Regions from separate parts of the Homo sapiens genome. Here region 2 is linked to region 1. Evidence: fine-mapped expression QTL. Tissue or cell type: prefrontal cortex. Region 1 holds a variant in brackets; the other region holds the start of a gene. All regions are shown on one strand. Distances are from middle to middle.

Region 1 (2,759 bases):
GCAAGTCATTCCTGTGGGCAGAGAAGGGGTGAAATGTTTTATAATGTGTTCTTATCCCTTCCAATGCACTCATACTGGTATTGAAACCCTCTCATGCAAGTGTGGTAGTTTACAGTTGCCAAACCACATGCATGTCGGTGATCCCACGTGCATTCCTAGCCCTTCTCTGTAAGGTTCACAGGACGGGTGCTGGTATCTCCATTTCACAGAGGATAAACTGAGGCAAAGAGAAGGCCCCAGATCAGCCAGATATTAGCAGCTCTCAGTGGCTGTCTCTCTGGCTCTTGGGGAGTCCACTGTGGTAGACTGGGTTACATTCAGCTATATTCACCTCCCCAAAGGAGAATTATGCACCCCAACTCTATCAATATGAGGCTATAAGACTTGCTCTGGCTAAGAAAATTTGAGCATAAGTGATGTGTGCTACTTTGGAGCAGAAGCTTGAAGACTTAGCACGTCACTCACCAGGTCTCTTTTCCCTCCGCCGTGACATCTGACAACGTTCCAGAGAGAGAAACGGAGAGACACAGACAGGCAGCGTGCTCCGTCAGCCTGAGTCCTAAAGTGAAGATGGTGTGGAACAGGGAAGTAGTTGACACATTATGGACATAGAGAGTGGGCAAGAAGCACACCTTTGTGATAAGGTTTAAATCCGCTGAGATTTTGGAGTCATTTCTTACACAGTAAAACCTAGCCTCTCCTAACTAATATATCTATAAAGGCAATATCCTTTCCTGAGAGTAGGGATTTATTATATCACCTCTAGATGAATCTTGACTGGTCTATTGTGCATGTATGCGTGCGTGTATGTGTGTTCATGGCACAAAGAATATGAGAAAGTGAAGGCCTAGCCCAAATTGTTCCAGATACTATGCAGAGAGGCCTGTTTCTCATTCTTCATCTCTTCTCTCCAATTATTTGTATTACTCTAAAGAAAACTTTCTGATTTCTGTTGAATTCTATGATAGCAGATAAAGGTTTTCTTCTTTCCTAACTTACTTGGGGAAACTGCTTTCAGGAGCTATGTATTGGCTCTTGGAAATAATTCTAGCAGCTTCTGTTTCCTGAGTGTTTATTCCCTACCAGGCACTATGCTAAGAGCTTCTCATGCTCTGCTTCATTTTCTCTTAATAATTCACATAGGTATTAAATG[C/T]TGCTGTTTCCTGATTTTTGAGACAAGGAAATGAAGAATTAGAGACCTTAAGGAACTTTCCAAAGCCACACAGCTACTAAGAAGCAAGGCTGGGACTGAAATCCAATTACAGTGTTGGATGATTTCTGACTTGTCAGTTTGGGTCCCTCATGTATTTGTAGGCACTATTATGCTTGCTTCCACTGGTATTTCTTCCCCCCTCCCCACCCCCCGCTGCTAATTCCAAGCCCCACTCTTTGCTCACCATGGATGGTAGAAGGGAATCTCCTTTCCTTAGTCCTGGTTTCAGTGAGGAAGGATTTTTTTCTGAGCACATTCTTGGTTCCTCTCCGTGCTTTATCCATTCCTGGAAGGATGAAGGATTGTACATTTGAGAATACCTGGTCATGCCCAACTCAGCACTTCTTCTGATAGGGAGGGAGCTGCTCCTCAGCCCTGCTCCCTTCAGCAGGAGGCCTGCCCTAGTCTTTGCAGCCCACTTCTGGGGTTCACTATTAGTGGCACCCTTCAGCTACCAACCCTAAAAGTTTCTTCTCCAACCTGGCAATATCACTAATAAAGAAAATATTCTGGCCTTCCTCTGCATCTTTTTGTTGATATCTCAACTTGTTCAGAAGTCAGACGAGGCAAAGGAATGCTATTTATTCAGAGTCCTGCATAGAGCCCCAAATGGGCATCCTAAGGGAACTGCACTGGTGGGAAAGATTTCATGGTCCACTGATGGTCCCTGTCCTCACCTTGGTGGCCTCAGGGTTTAACATCAGCCTCCCTGGACCTTCAAGGTGCTCTAACACCTGCCCCCCTTTTAGGCAATGAAGGATGGTATGGCAAAAATAGCTGGTTGTTTCTCAGTATCCATTCTTTTCTTCCCTCATTAGTAATAATCCTCCCCAGAACAAAGACTAAATTTCTCTGCATCCCTTTCAGCTAGGTGTGACCATGTGACCTACCAATGGGATGTCAGCAAAAGCAATAGGTACAACTTCTGGGTCATACACTTAACAGGAAGGCATGTGCTATCTACTTCTTTTTCTCCCCTCTCCTGGTGTTAGCTGGAGTAAGTATTTTGAGCCATGATATAGAAGCATGATTTGGGGGTGGCAGTGCCATAACCAAGGAGGAACTTACATCTTGCTGCCTTCAAGCTGCTATATCACCTCTGTACTACTTACCCAGACTTCCATGTGCGGGAAGAATACATTTCTATCTTGTGAAAGCCACTATCATTCTTTAGTCTCTTGTTTGCAGCATCTGAACCCATGTATTCTAAGCAGGTACTCAAGAAGTGCTTTCCAACTGGGGAAGGGGTTCAGGGCTCTGGCAGGAACCTAAGTGTGTGCCTGATTCACATGGATGAGGGAATCAGTGAATAAAGGTAGGAGAGAAGAGAAGGACCAGGCATTTGTTGAATGCGTGGAATATTCTAGATACTGTACCACATACTTTCAGTTACACTTTCCCAGTTAATCTGAACAACAATTCCGTGTGTGTATGGGTGAGGGGAAAATCTATTATCTGATTTTATAGTTGAGGCTCAGAGAAGTTAAGTGATTTGGGCCAGGCACAGTGGCTTATGCCTGTAATCCCAGCACTTTGGGAGGCCAAG
Region 2 (2,629 bases), 280 kb after region 1:
TGATGATGGCAATACCTGCTTCACAGAGTGAAAATTAGATGAGATGATGTCTGTAAAATTACGTAAGACGGTACCCAAAAGTAGTACTATTTTTCCCTTTTCTTATTAGAGCAGGTTGCGCACGTTTTGATGTCCGTGGGAATGAGCAGGTAGAGAGGGTGGTATTGAGGCCGGAGGGGAGAGAAGGGACCCACAGATGGGGAGAGAAGTCTTGGGTGCCTGTTTTATCCCAAACCAGGGGAAGGAGGGAACAGGTAGGGCTGGCTGCAGGAAAGCTTGCAGGTATGGGGTACACAGTTAAAAGGGAGTGTCTTCTGATAGTCTTGATGCAGGCCTGGAGGTCGTTTGTTATGGGGGTGGAGGTCCTGATGTACATTGTGGCGGTAAGATGCCGTGCTGTCTTTGCCACCAGCCTGTGGCAGCCCTGGTGTTACACCAGGGCAGGTGGGCAGTTTAATGTATCTCAGGCCAGATGACCTGCCCTGCCCACCTGTTGAGGCTCCAGTAGATAGACGTGAAAGCACAGTATAAGCATAATGCACCACTTTAATCCTTTTCTCTGAGGAGCTGGAAGGCCTGTAGTCACCATCTGAGCCAAATGTCATTCAAGTACTTCACTTGGGTTACACACCACACTTTGACCCACTATCTCATTTAGTCATCACAACAAATGGGTGAAATAGGTATTATTGTCCCATTTTACAGATGCAGAATCTGAGTTTCAGGGAAGTTAAGGACTTTGTCCCAGGGCCCACAGTTAGTAAGCAGTGGACCCAGGATTTCAACTCAGCTCTGTCTGACCTCAAAACCCATGATCTGAAACCACTGTGAAAGTTTGCAAAACCTCTGTAGCAGCCAAGCAGGATGGAAAGATGTGTAGGGATTGTCTTCTCCATTTGATAGATGAGACAAGAGCTGGGTACTCTGATCTCCATCCCAAGCACACAGAGCTTGGGGCCCCACAGCCCTGGTGTGAATCCCACTCCACTACCAGAGGCTGTGTGCCTTTGGACCAGGCATCTTGCTTCTCTGACCCTATATACAGCTGCAGAAGAATTCCTTGCAGGTTGCTGTAAGGATTTGGAGGGAAACTGTTGCCCAGCACACAGTACACATTCTGGGAGCCATCGTTTCCCCAGTGCACTTTTCCTGCAAATGTGGATCTACATCCCACTTGGATGCTGAGACCAGCTGCTGTGATCTTGCATTTGTTTAGCGCTTTGTTCTCCTTGAGGCAGTAAAGTGGTGGCACCTGACCGGAGCATGTAGCCACCTATGACTTCCTGAGTGGGGTGGTGTGGGGAGGGCCCTGAGGAGTCTGTGGTCCTAGGCCTTGGATTTCATCAGGGCTTTCCTGCTCCTTCTGGTTGCCTCAGTCCCAGGCAAGATAGGGTCCCAGAATCTTACAGCCCAGAGGCCACCTGTTGCAACTTCTTTTTTACAGATGGAGTCATCAGAACCCACTGTGAGGAAGTGACTTCTCCTTGAGGTCACCCAGACACTCCAAACAGAGCAGAGCAAAAGCGCCTAGAACTTGAAATTTTGGACCTGTCTCCAACACCCTGGGGATTTCCACCAGGAAGGTGAGCACCCCCACTGAGAATTCCAGGCTGCTCAGAGGTGCCAGGGAACACAGACCAGGGACCAGCTGTGGCCCCCTCCTCCGATGTGCCCAGGGAAGTGGGGGAAGCCAGCGGCAGCCTGCGATTCTCAACCAGGGGAACTCTCACTGTGCTTTCTGAGAGTCTGTGACACGGGTCATTTTCTCTGACTTGCTCTCTTGCTTTTTCTCACTCTAAAAAAAAAAAAAAATGACTGGACACTCCTAAAGCCTTCAGTCACCATCCAGGGGATTTTTATCGCCACAAAGGGTAATTCCTGCTCCATCCCTGCTGTGACTCAGCTGTGACGTTGAACCACACAAGCCAGAGAGAAGAAGATAAAGTCATCAGAGCTCCTACTCACCAGAGAGTGAGGCCCAGGCCAGGACTCCACAAGGCTGGTCCCCTGCCCTGGAGCAACTTAAACAGGCCCTCTGGCCAGCCTGGAACCCTGAGATGGCCTCCAGCTCAGGCAGCAGTCCTCGCCCGGCCCCTGATGAGAATGAGTTTCCCTTTGGGTGCCCTCCCACCGTCTGCCAGGACCCAAAGGAGCCCAGGGCTCTCTGCTGTGCAGGCTGTCTCTCTGAGAACCCGAGGTGAGGTGATGGAGGAGCGGAGGGTGGGCAGAAAGTGGGTGCCAGGGAGGGACCCCTGATGGGAGGTGAGGGGCAGAGGAGCCTGTGACTTCAGGCGGTGACTTTTCTTCTCTGGGCCTCAGTTTCCACACCCTTTTCTCACACTCCCTGACACTGCCCCTCTGGCTGTGGTGGAAGGAGAGGAAGCCACAGAAAGGCATCAGCTCCCACAGGGGAAAGCCATCCACACCGAGGAGAGCCTCGAGGCTGTGAGGCCACTGTCTCACTGTGTGGTCTGGTGCTCTGCTAATGTCCCTAAGCCGCAGCTCGCTTGTCTGTAAAGCTGTTTTCTGTGTCATAGAATTGTTAATGAAGCCCAATGAATAATAATCACAAAAGTCCTTATAATAACAAATATAAACCTCTTGGTGAATGACAAACTGTTAGACGAAT

The links. PIP is the estimated chance that this variant, and not a neighbour inherited with it, causes the effect.
Region 2: TRAF1 starts here. The variant in region 1 is fine-mapped to the expression of TRAF1 in prefrontal cortex (GTEx, PIP above 0.99).

The regions. Positions count from the first base shown.
Region 1 is chr9:121,208,036-121,210,794 of GRCh38, reverse strand. It overlaps a transcript of GSN not described here. Among named protein-coding and RNA genes, the nearest start is that of RAB14, 7.5 kb to the right of the region's middle. The variant C/T (reference allele first, on the strand shown) is at 1,154.
Region 2 is chr9:120,925,504-120,928,132 of GRCh38, reverse strand. TRAF1 (TNF receptor associated factor 1) reads left to right here and starts at 1,337. Exons shown (of 8, transcript NM_005658.5): 1 at 1,337-1,583; 2 at 1,832-2,197. The coding sequence starts at 2,058. RefSeq lists enhancers at 1,059-1,378, 1,719-2,058, 2,519-2,588, 2,185-2,629.